Linked DNA regions of Homo sapiens. The protein of the gene in region 3 interacts with the protein of the main gene of each other region in a biochemical or structural test. Each region holds a gene or a part of one and is shown on either strand. Other genes may lie near its edges.

Region 1 (5,102 bases), on a different chromosome or scaffold from region 3:
TTCATGGTGGCACGCGGACCGTCTCTTTTCTGACACAGGCTGCGAAGCGCCTCCTGGTAATCTGGGTCCCAGAAGTAGTAGAGGCGGGCAACAAAGATGGTCAGGGTAACCTTCGGGTCCTCGGCCAGGAACGTGGCCATATCCCTTGTACACTTTGTGCAGGGGCTCCAGGATATGTACCAGGTGACCTCATACTCCTGGTCACGATGCAGCTTCCTCCACTTGCTGAACCAGTGGAAGAATCTCATCTCTGGGTGGTACTTAAGTTCGGAATACACCTGGGAGAGGAGCAGGGTCAGGGCAAGCTCTGAGAGGGGGAGCAGGAGGAGAGCAGGGGTGGGGCAGGGGGAGGAGGGGCCAGGACAGGAGTCCAGGAGATCTTGCCATTGAAGCTCCTTTCCTCCATCCCCCTGTTCGGTTTGAGTGTTTGTCTGCTCCAAAGCTCATGTTCAGTATTAATTGCTATGGTAATGGCCTTAAGAGGTGGCACCTACAAGCAGCTATGAGGCTGTGGGAACTGCACCTTTGTGGGTGCCACTGCTGTGGTTATTCAAGGGCGACTTCAGCCCCTCTTTCTGTCTCTTGCCCTCTAGCTGGGGGGGCAGTATGTCAGACTAAACTGCTTCCTCTTGCCCCCATGTCACGGAGCAGCAGTGACTCGACATCCCAGGCCACTCTGTCTGGAGCATCCCCTGAGCTTCTGGCAACAACCTTCACCCCCACGTGACTGTGCAGCTCGCAGGCCCTGGAAAGTTGCTGGTGCATTGACAGGGGACTTCCCAGAGTCCAGAACTCGAGCCCATACATTTCTGTTCATTGTAAATGTCCCCATCTCAGTCCTGCTGTTGAAGCATCACAAGGTGCACCAAGACACGTGCTTCCCTGAGTTTGGAAGTTTTCCCAGCCCTGTTCATGGCCTCGTGTGTGAATTCTAGCATCCATTCTCCCAGGCATCCATTCACCAGACATCCTCAGCCCCTACTGTGGCCTGGCCCTCTAGGGTCTGCCTTGTTCCCTGCCTGCAGTCAGTGGGGAGCCCACTGGACCTGCACTGTCCATGTCGGGGGGGGTGACATGGCCAAGGGACTACTGAGTACTTGAAATGGGGCTCTGATTAGAGACCTGGGCACCTGAAAAATACACCACTCATTTCTTTTTTTTTTTTTGAGATGGAGTTTCGCTCTTGTTGCCCAGGCTGGAATGCAAGGATGCAATCTTGGCTCACTACAACCTCTGCCTCATGGGATCAAGCGGTTCTCCTGCCTCAGCCTCCCGAGTAGCTGGGATTACAGGTGACTGCCACCATGCCTGGCTAATTTTTTTTTTTTTTGTATTTTTAGTAGAGATGGGATTTCACCATGTTGCCCAGGCCGGTTTTGAATATCTAACTTCAGGTGATCTGCCCGCCTTGGCCTCCCAAAGTGCTGGGATTAGAGGTGCGAGCCACCCACTGTACGTGACCCACGCAGCTCATTTCAAAGACTCGGTGTGACAAGAAAAAGAAACTTCATTATCTTGTCAAGAATTTTATGTTAATTAATGTTGAAGTAATATGTTAGCCACATTGGATTAATTAAATATTAAAATTAGGCCGGCGCTGTGGCTCACACCTGTAATCCCAACACTTTGGGAGGCCGAGGCAGGTGGATCACCTGAGGTCAGAAGTTCGAGACCAGCCTGGTGAATATGGTGAAACCCCATCTGTACTAAAAATACAAAAAAAAAATCAGCTGGGCGTGGTGGTGGGCACCTGTAATCGCAGCTACTTGCGAGTCTGAGGCGACAGCATCGCTTGAACCCAGGAGGCAGAGGTTGCTGTGAGCCGAGATCGCGTCATTGCACTCCAGCCTGAGCAACAAGAGTGAAACTCTGTCTCAAAAAAAAAAAAGAAAAAAGAAAAGAAAAGAAAAACGGAAACACAAGGCCTTTTGTGCAGAGGCAAACCCCCTCCACGATCCGATCCCAGGACGGTCCAGCAGGAAGGTCAGGGCCACGGACTTGGAAAGTGTGGGAGAGAAGGACACACTGGATAGCCCGCCGCCGGGCACTTCACTTATCAGTGCGTGGTTTGCTTTCCCAGCTGGCTTAGCTCCTGCCTGCAAAGTGATTGGAGTCCGGGTGGTACCTGGCCTCGAAAGATCTTTGCGTCCAAAGGGGGCCTTGAGGGACCCTTTGTTTTCACTTCGTAGCACAGCCAGACGGTATTCCGACGAGAAAGGATGGGTCTATTATAAAAGTTGTAGGAGAATGTGTCTCGATACATTCGCTCCACTGTGTTTCTGAAGACACAAGAGAGAAACCAGCCAATGTAGAGAGCACTCCTGGGGGCCCTCCGGGCTGATGTCCACTAAACACAGCCCCCTGGACGGCTCTAGGCCTCCCCCATCCCTCCCCTCCCCTGAGAATTTCGGCGGAGACTGTAGTGAGCCAAGATCGCGCCACTACACTCCAGCCTGGGCGACAAGAGCGAAATTCCGTCTCAAAAAAAAAGAGAGAGAGAGACAGAATAAAACTCTTCACCCCAAAATAACAGCTTTTAACCTTTCAGCTCAGTTCCTTCCTGACATTTCACCTCTGTATATTATTATTGTTAAATCATGGTAGAACCGAATTCTGAGGCCCAGGCCAGTCTTCTAAGTGCTGCGCGGGGGTGAGCTCATGTGAGGCTGCCCTAGGCTGGCAGGGGCCATTCCCGTCTTACAGAGGAGGGGCCAGACGCGCAGAGAGGCGGGGTAACCTGCCCAGGCCACAGAGCTGGGGACAAATGGAGTGGGGGCCCCTTTCCAGGCCAGCCCTGTCCAGTCTCTGTATCACTGGCCCTGCAGGAGGCAGCCATTGGGGACCGGGCTCTCTTCTTACTAAATTTTAAAATAACAACATTCCTCCTGATCATTGAGTTTTTTTCCCATATATTCCATGTTTTTTCTTTTGTTTTTGTTTTTTTTTCTTTCAAGACGAAGTTTTGCTCTTGTTGCCCAGGCTGGAGTGCAATGGGGCGACCTCAGCTCACTGCAAACTCCGCCTCCTGGGTTCAATGGATTCTCCTGTCTCAGACTCCCAAGTAGCTGCGATTACAGGCGCCCGCCACCACACCCAGCTAATTTTGCATTTTTAGTAGAGACAGGGTTTATCCATGCTGGTCAGGCTGGTCTTGAACTCCTGACCGCAGGCGATCCGCCCACCTCAGCCTCCCAAAGTGCTGGGATGACAGGTGTGAGCCACCGCACCCGGCCACTATATTCCATGTTACTGGTGTCATTTATAAACAGTGAATGCTGATAGTGGAGGAGGAGCGTGTGTTTGGGGTCATCTGCATCCTCCTCTGCCCACAGTGGAGACATCCTTGGAAGACATGATTTATCCTGTGCTTCAGAGACCATTCCCTCCCCACACCCTCTCCTAAGACTTGGTATTTAAGCAAAGTAAATCTTACAGAAAATCCATCAAAGCCCTGTGAACAAAATTCCACCTTGCTCTACTCATCCTTTGGTTCAATTCTCCCAGTTCCAGAGTTCAGGAATGGCGGGAAGCACACAGAGGGAGCACCCTCCCAGGGCCGGGAGCACCACCCCAGCCATGACTTTCAGGGGAGAGTCTCAGCAGGGGACCTGGGCTGGGACAGATGGGGGAGGCGGCCCATTCAGAAGCAGCAGTGGGGCGACAACACAGCAGGGCAAGGAGCCTGGCTGGGAGTAGGGGGTGCAGGGGAGTCAGAGGGGAGGGAGCCCAGGGCTGGGGCTGGGGCAGGGGAAGGCCAGGGCTGACGCCCAGCAGAGCCACCAGGCAAGAAGGGGCAGCAGAGGGGCCCAGTGGGTAGAGCGGGCAGCGGTACCTGAAGTGAGGCTTCATCCTTGGCCGGCTAGTCCCGACTAAGATCTTTGTCTGGAGCACCAGGGTTTCACTTTCTGCTCCAAGCTTCTGGTTTTAGGACAGCCCTCCCTAAAGTGACCTCCCAGGGCCTCGTAGTCATGGCCCCTCCCGCTTCCTGCTCAGGCGCTGGTGTAGGAGGCCCTGGGACGCTTTATCTTCCTCAGTCTCTCACCCTCTTTCTGGTTTTCTCTGGGGCCCTCCCCCTGGCAGAGGGACCTCTGATAAAGACAGGCCGCTCTGTGCGGCAGGACCCAAGGCAATTGCAAAGGGAAAGAGAAAGTCATTGCAGCCAGCGCCCGGGAGGTGGGTCCACACCAGGCTGAGCCAGCAGAGCACAAGCCCCTCCCCTGGTGGTCCCGCCCAGCTGGAGCCTCCTCTCCACCATCAAGACAGACAGGCTGATGCCTCCGCAGGGACTCCCGGATCCTGCCCTCGGGGATCATCCCAGAGACGGCCCCCACCCAGCGGCCATGGGGACAGGGAGGGAGAGTAAATGGCCAGGCGTCTGCCTCCCCCCAGGCCGTCACCCTCGGAGGCCACCGTGGGAGGGAGGGACAGCAGGTGGGTGTGGGCCTCAGATGTCCCACCGGGATGCCATGCGCGCCCCCACACTGAGCTCTTTCCTTCCTGCTTCTCCTTCTTCCCCATCTCCTGCCCGGAGATCCTCCGTGGTGGGCTGAACTTTTGCCCTCTCTTGTCCCCATGTTATGGAAGGGCAGCGGCTGGTGTCCCAGGCCAGCCTGTCTGGAGCCTCCCTGCGCGTCTCACAGCTCCCTTCCCCTGGTAGCGTGTTCCCATGGCGTGGTGACCTACAAATTACACAAGGGATGCATTTGCAAATGACACTTTATTTCTTGTTAAGGGTGACAGCCTGCAAGGTAGCCATCCAGCAGCCTGGGAAGAGCAGCCTCTGGTTAACACCAGAGACAGACATTTAGAAGCAGGAGGGGTTGGGGCAGGAGCTTTATGCTGAAGGGGTTAGCTAAACATACATATTGAACAGGCTACAGGAGGAGCTATGAATATTCATGTGGGTGGCTGCACTCCATGCTTATTGAACAAACATGCGTGTAACATATGATCCCAGGCGGGCACAGTGGCTCACACCTGTAATCCCAGCATTTTGGGAGGCCGAGGCAGGTGGATCATCTGAGGTCAGTGTCAGGCCGCTGAGCCAGAGCTAAGCCATTGTGACCCCTGTGAACTGCACATATACATCCAGATGGCCTGCA
Region 2 (4,636 bases), on a different chromosome or scaffold from region 3:
CCACACCCAGCCATCTCTATAATTCTGTAATTTCAAGAGTATTATATAAACAGAATCATGCAGTATATGACCTTTTGAGACTGGCTTTTTTTTTTTAGTCTAATAGTTGTGTAACAGTATCGCTCATGGTGGTCTTAGTTTGATGTGAAACATCTTTTCATGTGCTTTTCGTCATCCTTTTTAGTAAAATATCTCTTCCTATCTTTTGTCTATTTTCTAATTGAATTTTTTTTTGTTTTACTGTTGAGTTTTTAGAGTTCATTATATACTCTAGATATGAGTCCTCCATCAGATGCTTTACAAGTATTTTCTCCAGTCTGTGGCTTTTCTTCATCCGTTTAAGAGGGTCTTTCACACAGCAAGTTTTTAATTTTGATGAAGTTCAGTGTATCAATTTTTTCCTTTTATGGCTCATGCTTTTACAAAAAATTATTTTAATTTTTTAGAGATGATGTCTCACTACATTGCCCAGGCTGGAATGCAGTGGCTATTCACAGTATGACCACAGCCTACTATAGCTTCAAACTCCTAGTCTCAAGCAATCCTCCCACCTTAGCCTCCCAAGCAGCCAGGACTCTGTAGTGGTATGATAAAAGCTCACTGCTTCCTCAGTGATCTGCACCACCATACCCCACCTTTTACAGGTCTTGCTTTTGACGTGGCCTAAGCACTCTCCACCAAACCCTAAAGTTCTATCGTTTTATGGTTTTTTGTGTTTTTTTTTGTTTTTTTGAGATGGAGCCTTGCTCTGTCGCCCAGGCTGGGGTGCAGTAGCGCAATTTCAGCTCACTGCAACCTCAGCCTCCTAGGGTCAAGCGATTCTCCCACCTCAGCCTCCTGAGTAGCTGGGAGCCACTGTGCCCGGCTAATTTTTGTATTCTTAGTAGAGACGGGGTTTCACCATGTTGGCCAGGCTGGTCTCGAACTCCTGACCTCAAGTGATCCACCCACCTCGGCCTCCCAAAGTGCTGGGATTACAGGCATGAGCCACCACGCCTGGCTCATTTTATATTTTATATTTACACCTATAATCCATTTTGAGTTAATTTTGTATGTTTAGGTCAAAATTCATCTTTTAACTATGGATATGAAATTGCTCCAGTACGATTTGTTGAAGACTATGCTTCTTCCATTGGAACTGTTTTGCACCTTTATCAAAAACAAATTGGCCATACTTATATGGGGCTATTTCTGGCTTCCCTATTCTGTTCTAGTCATCTATATATCCCTCTGGTAACGCCACTGAGTCTGGATTACTATAGCTATATAAGTCTAGAATTTGGATAGTGATTCCTCCCACTTTCTTTTTCAGATTTGTAGTAGGTATTCCTTTGCTTTTCTATATAAAATTTTAGAAGATCGTCTATATCGACAATTTTGCTGGGATTTTAATAGAAACTATGGTATATATGTATACAAATTTAGGGAGAAATGACATCTTTACTATATTTAATCTTCCAATCTTTGAAGATGGACTATCTCTCCATTTATTTAGATTTTCTTTGGTTTCTTTCATCAGCATTTTGTAGTTTTTCACTATATAAATCTCTTACTTATCTTGTAGTTTACATCTAAGTATTTATTTTTCTTTCTAAGCAGTTGTAAATGGCATTGTATTTTACATTAACTTTCACAAGTTCACCGGTATGTTGATTTTGTATTCTGTGGGACTTTCTACATAGAAATCACATCTTCTGACTTTCTATAAAATGCCAAAAGTTCTCCAGATCTAAATTCAAACTACAGTGTAAATACTCCTTTTTAAAAACATATTTCTTGTAAAAATAAATTTACTGTGATGTACCTTCCATTTGGCTAATACTATATTGACTGTCTACTCTGTCTGCTACTATAAAGAAACAAAGATTAATTGGATCCAGCCTAGGAATTTACACTCTAGTAAAGGAGATATGTAATTGATACTGAAATTAAGGGCAATAATGCAAAATAAAGTAGATGATGAAACAGGCTTTATAAACTTAAGTTAAAAATCAGGGCCCAAAAAATATTTATATAACCATACAGAAAAGACTGGAAGAATAGATAGCAAAATGTTACCAGCAGTTATCTCAGTAATAAAGTTACTACTGCTGACTTTTTTTCCCTCTTGCTTATCTGTATTCTCTGTTAAATATCTCTTATAATAAAGGAAAAAAGCTTTTAAAAATTAAGTAATTTTCTTTTTGTCAAAAGGATACGGAACTACATTGCAATTAGGAACTCTGTCATTTAGAAATTCTGCAGCAACTTCAGCCTTAGGTCTTCCAATATCTTTAGGCCTACAGGAAAAATATTTAAATTATAATTCATATTATAAATCTATATGATCTACATAACTTATTTTCAAACATAAAAGTAAATTCACAGTAAGTTTACTTATAGGAAATTTAGAAGGAATATTTTTGCCTAAGTATTTTGATTTCAGTAATAACTTTTGGTAAACGGTCATTTAACCTTAAATGTCAACCCTTGCTAATGGTCCAAATTAACATAAGTCTAATTAAGTATTGCTTTAATTAAGAGAAAATCTGAACAGTGTTCTTCCTCCCAGATAAAGCATAATAATGCTATGATTCCTGGCCACTTTCCACTGTAAAAAATTATCCCACTCTTAGAGCTCAGAACCTTATGGTGTTACTCCACAGGTCTTGGCTGAAATATACACAATAAGATTCATCCTTGGGATGCAAGAACCTTCATTTAACCCCTTCTTCCTGTGTGTGCTGATTAAGCAGCAAATTTTGTGTCCCCTAAGAAGCTGCATGAAAAAGAAAAAAAAAGAAAAAAAAAATTTCACTGGACCGTATATAAAATGGAAAAAAAAAAAAAAAAGAGGCTGTAACCACGTTTTTTTCTTTTTTCTTTTTGAGACGGAGTCTCACTCACTCTGTCACCCAGGCTGGAGTGCAGTGGTGCGATCTCGGCTCACTGCAACCTCCGCCTCCCAGGTTCAAGCAATTCTCATGCCTCAGTCTCTAGGGAGGTGAGATTACAGGTGCCTGCCACCACAACCAGCTAGTTTTTGTATTTTTAGTTTTGCCATGTTGGTCAGGCTGGTCTCGAACTCCTGACCTCAGGTGATCTGCCCGCCTCAGCCTCCCAAAATGCTGGGATTACAGGCATGAGCCACCATGCCCGGCACCAAGTTTTTAAAGAAAGAATAATACCAAAAGTGTCAGCTAAAATTGCAAATGTTACTATTACATCACAGAAGCTGAATATATAAGGCCTCAAAAGGTCACTCTTAAAACAATAACCACACATATAGATAGGAAAGGATATGAATTTCCTCCTCTAAGTTCTATACAAATGGTATTTTCTTTCCTAATATTTCCATATTCTCCTCAGAGAAATCACTCCATGTATATAATAAGAACATTATTACTTTTTTCGTAACATATTTGCTACATACACGTCTATCATACCCACTAGACTATTATTTGGATGAAAGTGACCATGTTCTTACTCTCTTCATATTCCTTCCTACCTAGCACACAGTAAATACTTTTAAAATAAATGAAAATAATAAATCGTGTGCTTATTAGAAAAAAATCTGAAATTTCAAAGAAAAACACTTTAGCATGTCAATTTTTCTTTTCTTTTTTTTTGTTTGTTTGAGACAGAGTCTCGCTCTGTCACCCACGCTGGAGTGCAGTGGCACAATCTCGGCTCACTATAACCTCTGCCTCCCAGATTCAAACAATTCTCCTGTCTCAGCCTCCAGAGTGCTGGGACTACGGGCATGAGTCACTACGCCTGGCTAATTTTTGTATTTTTAGTAGACACAGGGTTTCACCGTGTTGGCCGGGCTGGTCTCGAACTTCTGACCTCAAGTGATCCGCCCACCTTAGCCTCCCAATGTGCTGTGATTACAGGCATGAGCCACCATGCCAGGCCAATTTTTTTTCTCTCCAATAAAGCACTGTTCTTTTTTGATTCAAAACTTTTGGTAAATGTTTTATCTTCACTTTGTACTAACTTACATAAAAAAGGCCCTGTTATAAATCAAAGAACTTAATTTCAGTATTGCATTCAATGGCTCCACACACAGAAAGCTCTTTTGGTTTGTAAAAGGGATAAAGTAGACTTCTAAGATTATTTTAAGTAATATATTCTATGTGCTTTTATGGCACGGCCCAAACAAAAGAACTCCTAGATGGTTTCTGGGAACTGTTTGTTAATTTACCATTCCAGGATGAAACAATCAGATTGCTCCACCTCAATAAAATGGCCTTTCACACACATCATCCTTGCAGGACACTCTGCCCAAATTATTTAACCTTGAACACAAGAACCTACCCTGAGGTTGCTGAGATTAAATGGAATAATATGGATAGTTTAGAAGTACTTGCTACATATCGTTATTACCATCTTCAACCATTTTAGCCACAAATTAAAGGGTATGGCCTGTATCAATAACAAATCAATTCAGTGGTATCTTTTTCAGAGAATTCACAACTCAAAATTTGACAAGCTGGACAGAGCCCACAAACTTTGCTATAGAGAAGGGAAATTTCAAAGGTTAAAAAATAAACAAAAAATAAAGCTTAAAAGTTAAACATTAAGGGTCACACTGCAATTACAACACTTCATTAACTTATTTTAATCCATACTTCAGTCCCATTAAGATCTTCCA
Region 3 (4,954 bases):
ACTCCTCCCCCAACCCCAAACTCCCAAATGCCAGTTTAAGTCCAAGGTTGAGTTTAGAGTCGTTATGAAGTCAAATGTGTTCCTCCATCCAGTTGTCCAAAACATTTATTGACTACTACAGTAGGAACAAGAAATGATCCCTCAATGTAAAGGAGCTCTATAACATTTATTTATGAATCAATGAATGAATTAGTCTGGCCCTGTTGCCCAGGCTGGAGCGCAGTGGTGCGATCTCAGCTTGCTACAACCTCCACCTCCCAGGCTCAAGTGATTCTCATGCCTCAGCCTCCTGAGTAGCTGGGATTACAGGTATGTATTTTTAGTAGAGATGGGGTATTGCCATGTTGGCCAGGCTGTTCTTGAACTCCTGACCTCAAGTGATCTGCCCACCTCACCTTCTCAAAGTGCTGGGATTACAGGTGTGAGCCACTGCGCCCAGCCTGAAATTTCTTTTAAATTTAGTTCCTCTGGGTAATTAAGTCCCTGTATGCAATTCAAGTTTCTTATAGTCAAGAGTTTTTTCGATTATTAAATTGTTCACTTGATCAGTAACTAATTGCTATTATCTGTCCAGTTTCACAACCTTATTGCCAAACTATTTCTAGCTTAAAAATAAGTATTTCAGGCCAGACGCGATGGCTCACACCTGTAATCCCAGCACTTTGGGAGGCCGAGGCAGCTAGATCACGAGGTCAGGAGATTGAGACCATCCTGGCTAACATGGTGAAACCCTGTCTCCACTAAAACTGCAAAAAATTAGCCAGGTGTGGTGGCAGGCGCCTGTAGTCCCAGCTACTCGGGAGGCTGACGCAGGAGAATGGCATGAACCCAGGAGATGGAGCTTACAGCGAGCCGAGATCGCGCCACTGCACTCCAGCCTGGGTGACAAAGTGAGACTCTGTCTCAAAAAATAAAAATAAAAACAAAAATAAGTATTTCACAAATTTTCAAATATATCCAAAATGTGAAATGATTATGTTTTACATTTTTTACTTTTTTTTTTTTTTTTTTTTTTTTTTTGAGACAGTCTCATTCTGTCGCCCAGGCTGGAGTGCAGTGGCACAATCTTGGTTCACTGCAACCTCCGCCTCCCGGGTTCAAGCGATTCTCCTGCCTTAGCCTTCCGAGTAGCTGGGACTACAGGCGCGCGCTACTACACCCGGCTAATTTTTATATTTTTAGTAGAGACAGGGTTTCACCATGTTTGCCAGGCTGGTCTTGAACTCCTGTCCTCAGGTGATCCACCCACCTTGGCCTCCCAAAGTGCTGGGATTACAGGCGTGAGCCACTGAGCCCGGCCCATTTTTTACTTTTATCTGCTATAAAATTTGAATTTTGTTATGACATAGCCTATCTTAGTTGATGAATATATTAACCACTTTCAGGTTGGAATTTTTTTTTTTTTATTACCTCTTCCAGGCATATAGCCACATGCTATCATCAGTGGAAAAGCTACATTCCTGACTGCTCTCATTTTGAATTAGAATTTGAAGTCTAATATAAATAAGTGGGTTACTTTTCATATTTCTGATTCCTAAGGCTGGCTGAGATTAATTTACCTTCAAATTTAAAAATATACCTACTATAAAAATTTTAATTAAACTCTTTGTAACTATTTTATAGTAGAACATCAACATTTTCTGGATAGGTAAAAGCTTTTATATTACATTTTTATTTTGCAAGAAAATAAATTATACAACTTAAAAAATAAAATCCAAAAATTAAGCAGTTCATCAAAATATTTCAGCCTACTGCATACAGAAACTGCTACCACTTAAAATTGTACAGCATTATCATCTCAGTATGTAGTGGCACACATTCAAAATCGTATAGACCATATGAGGATAGATTACAACTTAGAAACTAAAATAAATTTGTTCAACACTCCAGACAACATATAGTGTAGATGACAGGAAAGCTCTCATGTAATGTTTATTTCACAAACATGACCTTGGAAGAATTCATAAGACAGCATCCCAGTCACTTACATGAGAACAGAAAAACCAGCTTGAGTTTAAGATAGCAAATCTTTCTGTAAAACTAGCAAATCTTTCACCCAGACTGAAGTTTTAAAATTTGCCCTTTGAGCAGTGCTAGAGACATCTTACTGCAAATAATGCAAAATACTTTTTAACTACTCAGGTCATATTTTCTATTAAATTTAATAAAAAGTAAAAGAAAGAAAGCTAACATTTCATTTTTGGAAGGTTTAACATTTATGCACAAAATAAGAGCAAGAGACTTAAATAAAAAAGTTGACAGAACTCAGGGACCCCTCCAATAAATGTAAAAATTGGAAGACTTCAGAATTTATTTCAAGATCCTCATTTAATCATTGGAATAGTAATATTCTAATATTTATCTCATTGTGACCATCAAAATTTTTCTATATTTTTACTTCTTAAACTCTGTCTTATGTCTACTTACTCCGGCAACGAGATGGCAACACAAGTTAACATTTTCCAGATGGGATGTCTCTGTCTTTAAACTAGAAGATGGGTATTCAGAGGTTAAGATAGCCTCTGAAGTGTCTTATTGCCATACCACTAATTTTTAAAAATTAAATTTTTTTTTTTTTTTTGGAGGGGGAGGCTGGATTTTCTTTTCACTTAACTGCAGGTTATATCCCTGCTCGGCACCAATTTTAAGTGTACGCTGGAGAGAAGAGACCTGAATAAAGGATGCCAACTGTGATTCCAGACCTTTACAAACTGCTGGTAAGATTTTTTTTTTCATTTTTTTTTAAATTAGCAAATCTGTTGTTAAATTACTTAAAGAAAATTTAACAATGGCATAGGCACCTTGTCAACTAAATGATTTTCATAAACACCAAAAAGTAGTTAAAACTTTTGTATACATAACCAAAAAAAAAAAAAAAAGAAAACTGTACATTTACAGTATTTGCTGCTGTTCATTCCCCAAAATACAATTAGGACATAATTGGCTATTAAAAATTTATAAAATTTAATAAAAAACTTTGCTATGAATGTAGTGTTACCCACTTTTGCATTAAATTCACCTTCATAAATCAAAACATCATGACTCTCATTCTTAAATTAAATGACCCAAAATTAGAAGTTCCAAAAAAGTTCTGAGAACAATTATGGTTTAAAACAACAAACCTAAATTTTTAAAATGGACGGCAATTTTTCCTGTTTCCTCCTTTGGCATTCTTGTATTGGGACAAGCAAATACGCCAATGCTGAATTATCTGTTAAACATAAGGGCCACAATTACTACAAAATTATTTCTTCTAAATTCCAAATATACCCATTATGAACAGTCACCTAATTAGAGAAAACTGTACGTATTAATTTTAGTTTAATTCTTCACAATATGCTCGGTCTAATAATTGACATTTGCTACCTTAAAGTGTAAAATTTTAAACAAAATTCCAATTTCCTATAAGTTTCAGAACAGGCATTTGGCTATACTCAGCAAAACTCTAAATGTTTTAAAGTTGCTTTCCTTCCATTCAGCAGGCAGTTCACAAAGCCTCTTCGGATGGGGACAGATCCTACGAAATGCTCTTGAAAGCACTCCACTGTAACATAATACTGTATGCCTTTCTGTACTCCATTTCCTACTATCTTCAAAAACCATACTTTAAAAATATTACTTAACATCAAATAAGATATAAAATAATTTGCAAGAAAATTTGAAACGTGCACCACAATGAATAAAAATCCACGTTGAGCCATTCTTTCCTCAAGGGGAATCAATTTTCTCTTTCAAGTTGTTCACGTCCTCAAGTCCTAAAATTTCCACTACTCTGGGTATTCAGTTGCCAGCAACTAGTTAAGTTGCTACTTTGGATAGACTGAAAGGAACATGGTAAATGTTGCCTTCTGACGATTTAAAAAATGTTTATTTTTAAAATATATAAATATATATGTACATATATTTGGCAAGTTTACTGCTCGTATTAAGAGTGCAACAATTTTGCTTCTGTTTTTCAGGTCTTATGTTGTGGTTTTTCTCTTACCCCTAGGTGACTGATTCAAACCTGAGGCTACAAATCCCTAATCATGAGACCTTAAAATACCAAAATACTTCTATGCTACAGATTAAGAGATCAGTTACATAACTATATCAGAGCAGGAGATTTCTGTGTTGTTTTTAATAAATTCAGATATGGCATAATAAATATTAGGTATATAAACATTAAGTGTGTTAGTAAACACACAATATGTTTAGTAAACACACTTAATATGTTTGTTTTGCTATTTTGGCTCTGCAATCATAATGACCTACCTATCTCCATAAATTTTTTAAACTATTGAAGCAACAATTAATATAAGCTTCATTTTTCAAAACAAGCTTTCCAGCCATATTTAAAAAAAAAAAAACTCCTCATCATTTAACAACAACTAAAATAGCAGTCTCCTGCTTAAAGAAAACCAACATTTGAAAGTTGAAAATATTTAATACCATTTTTAGGTCACCATTAAAATCCAGTTATTATACTGAGCAATGTTTGAACAATTTGATACTATTAAATACTTAACTTCTCACCTACATCTGCCGTTTCCCAATGTTGCATTGACCAGCTCACTCTTTTCATCAAAAGAAACCAAGAGTGCTATTTCTAGTTTTAATTGCATTTTTTAAAAACAAAAGATAACAGCATTTTTCAGTGCATGAATATCTGAAGATCCTTCCTTGTGCAAGTACATTTTTTAAGAGAGGAAAAAAGAGAAAAAAGCAACAAGAACCCCACCCTCACCCTTCCCAACTGTATTTCTCCTGGTGGGTACAAATCAAATTCACTTTTAAAAGTTGATAATGGGCTCTTCATGAATGCAAGTTTCTCCACAAAACAGCATGCTGTCAAAGAGTGTGCAACATGAAGGGAATGCCATCATGCTAACTAATGTGATTGGCAAAATATAGTTGTTTTTGTAAGGTAAGGCAGAGATTTTAATATTTATGTAATCAAAGTCCAAATAAACCT
Region 4 (4,636 bases), 5.0 Mb from region 3:
GGTGATTAATTATAGGGCACTTTCTCTTCCTTTACATATTTGGAGAATTGTTTAAATGAGAATGTGTTAATTTTATAACTTAAAAGGCATACATATACAATAAAGGTGTTAAAATGCATAAATGAGTATGTATTCTTATATATGATTGAAAGAAAACAAAAATCAGATTTGAAAATTTAAGAGGCCCAGGCGCGGTGGCTCATGCCTGTAATCTTGGCACTTTGGGAGGCCGAGGTGGGATTATCACTTGAGCCCAAGAGTTCCAGACAAACCTGCACAACACAGGGAGACCCCATCTCTAGGGAAAAAAAAAATAGCCTTGTGTGGTGGTGCCAGTCTGTGGTCCCAGCTACTCAGGAGACTGAGGTGGGAGCATTGCTTGAGCCCAGGAGTTTGAGGCTGCAATGAGCCATGATCACGCCATTGTACTCCAGCCTGGGAGAGAGCAAGGCCCTGTCTCAAAAAAAAATAAAAAATAAAAAATTAAGGGAAAAGACAAACGGTTTTTTTAAAAGCCACGATGTAAATATATTGTAAATTTTTCTAAAGCATCAAGAAAACATACTTGCTCTCAAAGTTGCCATTAGTGATTCAAAGAGAAAGCTTTAGAGGATGTCTAGAAACATCAGCATAAGCTAGGAGCAGTGGCTCACGCCTGTAATCTCAGCACTTTGGGAGGCCGAGGCAGATGGATTACGAGGTCAGGATTTCAAGACCAGCCTGGCCAAGATGGTGAAACCCTGTCTCTACTAAAACTACAAAAATTAGCCAGACGTGGTGGCAGGTGCCTGTAATCCCAGCTACGCAGGAGGCTGAGGCAGGAGAATCACTTAACCTAGGTGGCAGAGGTTGCAGTGAGCCGAGATTGCGCCACTGCACTCCAGCGTAGGTGACAGAGCGAGACTCTGTCTCAAAAAATATAAAAAATAAAAAAGAAATATCAGTATAGCCCCCCTAGAAACTGGAGGATTACTTGGTGATTACTAATTAAAATTTGGTTAGAAGCAAGTCAAATGAGATTACATAGAGATATAATACCTTATAACTTAGATAAGGTCTGTAAATGTTAACTGACTTTGCCAAAGTGATGTAAATAGTAACAGATCTAAGTCTAAAGCGAGGTCTGTAACTAATGTGCTTTCCCCGGACTGCAAAATGTTAATCCTTCCAATACCATTGCTTCCAATCTTTCTAATAAAACTACTCTCTGGGTAAAACCTCTGGAGCTAAATTTAATTAACTCTTTTGGACAACTAGGTTTCCACTCAATTGAAGAAGCTATAGAAATGATTTTGTTCATACTATGAGTTCACTCTACTCCACCAGCTAGGTACTATATTAGGACTATGCAATTCCAACCTTATTTTTTGACTCTATGAGACTTTAAAACTGCCCTTTCACTTTCCATGTTTTCAATTACCATAGGCCAGTATATTACTGAATCATTAATTTAAATATCACTCAAGAATGAGGTCTTGTGAAAGAACAAAACCAACAGCCTTATCACACATAATACCATAGTAACAAGTTTAGTGATATTTTCAAAACTAAAAGAAAAACACCATCAATTTCCTGATTTCTTTATAACCATAAAGGAATGTTCCTAGCTATATCTGCAAGGCCTAATACCATGCCAGCCATAACAGATGCTTAGGGGGAAAAAAAAAAAATTCTCAGTGACACAGCACCTTCAACATGAGCTACGTAAGAGTCATTAATTTTGGAACACTGTAAAAAACACACAACCAGTAAATCTGATGCTGTAATGCTATTACTGTTTTAATAATAATAACATTTGAGTTCTGACTATATACCAGGTATTGTGCTAAGGGCTTTACATGTATTATTCTCAGTAGGCAAAATTATTGGCTTCATTTTAATACGGACATACCCATTTCAAGACAGAACAGTTACTGTTTATTTGGCAAACAAATGGTTCCTCCCTAATCAGGTCTCTGCACAAAGTGGTCTCCACAGAGAGGCCTTCCCTAATCACTCTATCTGAAAGTCCATCTAACCCTTCTTTCTTCTCTATTCCTGAACCTCACCATATTTATTATCCTTATAACTCCCCACAATCTGTACTTATCTTGCCTACATACCTGTTTACTGACTGTCTTCCTCACCAGAAGGCAAGTCCCCCAAAGGCAGGGATCTTGTCTGACTTGCTCAGCACTATATATCCAGCACTCAGCACAGTGCCTGACTCAAAACAAGTGCTCAATATTTATTGAATGGATGACAGAAATTAACCAAGAGTACCAATATTTTCTTTGCAAAAGTGAAAATTAGCTTAAATAAAAAATAAACATAAAATAATATCTATTATAATAAAATGTTTATAACTATATATAAACATTATAAAATTTAAATAAAAAATACATAAAAGCATAGTAGTTAAAAGCATGGACTTTAGAATCAGAAGGACCTGGGTTTGAATCCTGGCTCTTGTCACTATATGATCTTGGGCAAATTAATTAATCTAAGTCTCAGTTTTCTCATCTATAAAATGAGGGTATGGCCAAGCACAGCAGCTCATGCCTGTAATCCCACCACTCTGGGAAGCTGAGGCAATTAGATCACTTGAGCCCAGGAGTTGGAGACCAGTTTGGGCAACATCGTGAAACCCCATTTCTTTTTTTCTTTTTCTTTTTTTTTTTTTTTGAGGCAGAGTCTCACTCTGTCACCCAGGCTGGAGTGCAGTGGTGTTATCTCGGCTCACTGTGAGCTCCGCCTCCTGGGTTCACGCCATTCTCCTGCCCCAGCCTCCCAAGTAGCTGGGACTACAGGCGCACACCACCACGCCCGGCTAATTGTTTGTGTTTTTGGTAGAGAGAGTGTTTCACCATGTTAACCAGGATGGTCTCGATCTCCTGACCTCGTGATCTGCCTACCTTGGCCTCCCAAAGTGCTGAGATTACAGACGTGAGCCACCACACCCGGCTGAAACCCCATTTCTACAAAAAATTTAAAAAATTAGCCAGGCGTGGTGGCACATGCCTATATTCCCACCTACTAGAAAGGCTGAGGTGGGAGGATGGCCTGAGCCCAGGAGCTCAAGGCTGCAGTGAGCCATGATCACAGCACTGCGCTCCAGCGTGGGCGACACAGTGAGACCCTGTCTCAAAAAATAAAGTCGTAGTGGGAGGTGGTGATAATACTACCTACTTAATAGAACAGTCACAAGAAAAAATAATATACCTGGGACAATTCCTGGAATAATGCAATTATTATGTTGGCTATTAAAAATGCTAATATAGTAAACAAATGTTTAATTAGAATCTTACACTACCTAGGAAAGTTCCTAGTTGAGGCAAATATTTTCTATTTCTATTGTATCTAGTAACCTTTATAAGTGAAATAAGATGGGTGACCTTTTGATTATATATCATTCATACCAGTAAAACTGGCATTTGGGATAATGGGTCAACATTTTAAATGGAGGTCAGTAAGAAATGAATTCCCTTCATTTAAATTGGGTTAGTGGTTGTCTTGGGATGCCAGTAATAGCATTTATTTCTGGTCTAGAAAGAATCTGTTCTGTTACTAAACAATTTTAAAATTGTACTTTGGGATCACTCAGCTGATTCCAACAGTAAAGTTACTGCCCCCCTTTCAAAATAGTCTCACATTCCATACAATTAGCCTAAACTTATACCTCAAGTTCAAAGTATACTACTTTAGACCTTAATGTGGATGAGCACTAAATATAAGGCAATAGCTACATATACACTTCCATTTTAAACAAACATTTTGAGAATGATAGTGATTAAAAGAAGGAGAAAAAAAAGTGAAGCAGGTTAAAAAAAAGGAAAAGGAAAAGAAAAAAGCTTTAAAATCAATAACTCCAAAAAAACAAAACTATTCTAAGGGGAAAAAAATTCCATATATATTTATGAGATAGTATAAGTGTTCTTTTGCATATATTTGCTTAACTCTTCAGCCCCATCTCTGGCTGGCTTTGACTTTCGCCTCTAAAACACAACCCCATCCTGGGCCTAGGGCTCTTCATCCACCAGTTACAAGATTTAGCTGAGGTTAAGTTAGCTCCTCTAGAAAACTCCCATGACACTTTAAAAGCTGGGTTATATATCCCTCCTATGAACTCTCACAGTGTATCTTCTGAATATAGTATTTATCACACTGTATTAATATCAGTCTATTTATTTTCTTACTATTGCATCTCTAGTAGAAGTGGATGGCTAAATGATAATTGTTAAAAAGTAAATGTGTTGTACAATTATAACTGAGGGGTTTAAATCTTTTACTATGTCTCCCCAAAAGTTTCAGAAAATGTTAGTTCAGAAAAATTTCAAAAAGAGAATATTGAATAGAAATGTTTTATTATGTACTTTGTGTTTTCCACAATATCAAATACAAAAATGTTTTATTGTGTACCTTTTATTTTCCAGAATACTACTTTAGCCAATAGATGTAAATAAATGAATCTTTGTTTACACGTTTTATTAATAGTAAATGAGTTCTTCCCTCCCAGTAAATATATACCGAATATATATTTAAAGAAATATCAGCCTAAATTGGCAACAAATTTTTAGTCTACCCACAATCTTCAGTCCTGACCCTCATCCCAGTACACAGCACTAACACATAGCAGGCCTGTAACAGATAATTTGTT

What was found. Proteins that work in one complex are often made in the same cells at the same time.
Region 1: of the proteins of CUL5 (region 3) and APOBEC3G, one has a biochemical effect on the other in vitro, tested with the Homo sapiens proteins (one study listed by BioGRID).
Region 2: of the proteins of CUL5 (region 3) and UBA3, one has a biochemical effect on the other in vitro, tested with the Homo sapiens proteins (one study listed by BioGRID).
Region 4: the proteins of CUL5 (region 3) and DCUN1D5 form a complex in vitro, tested with the Homo sapiens proteins (one study listed by BioGRID).

The regions. Positions count from the first base shown.
Region 1 is NC_000022.11:39,076,109-39,081,210, reverse strand, and holds the start of APOBEC3G (DNA dC->dU-editing enzyme APOBEC-3G), read right to left. Parts: upstream 3,937-5,102; 5' UTR 3,850-3,936; coding exon 3,833-3,849; intron 2,280-3,832; coding exon 2,126-2,279; intron 279-2,125; coding exon 1-278.
Region 2 is NC_000003.12:69,065,730-69,070,365, forward strand, and holds part of UBA3 (NEDD8-activating enzyme E1 catalytic subunit), read right to left. Parts: intron 2,280-4,636; coding exon 2,199-2,279; intron 1-2,198. UniProt on the Homo sapiens protein: Catalytic subunit of the dimeric UBA3-NAE1 E1 enzyme. E1 activates NEDD8 by first adenylating its C-terminal glycine residue with ATP, thereafter linking this residue to the side chain of the catalytic cysteine, yielding a NEDD8-UBA3 thioester and free AMP.
Region 3 is NC_000011.10:108,104,464-108,109,417, reverse strand, and holds the end of CUL5 (cullin-5), read right to left. Parts: 3' UTR 3,212-4,954; coding exon of another isoform or gene 3,131-3,211; 3' UTR 1,657-3,130; downstream 1-1,656. UniProt on the Homo sapiens protein: Core component of multiple cullin-5-RING E3 ubiquitin-protein ligase complexes (ECS complexes, also named CRL5 complexes), which mediate the ubiquitination and subsequent proteasomal degradation of target proteins.
Region 4 is NC_000011.10:103,084,525-103,089,160, forward strand, and holds part of DCUN1D5 (DCN1-like protein 5), read right to left. Parts: intron 1-4,636. UniProt on the Homo sapiens protein: Contributes to the neddylation of all cullins by transferring NEDD8 from N-terminally acetylated NEDD8-conjugating E2s enzyme to different cullin C-terminal domain-RBX complexes which is necessary for the activation of cullin-RING E3 ubiquitin ligases (CRLs).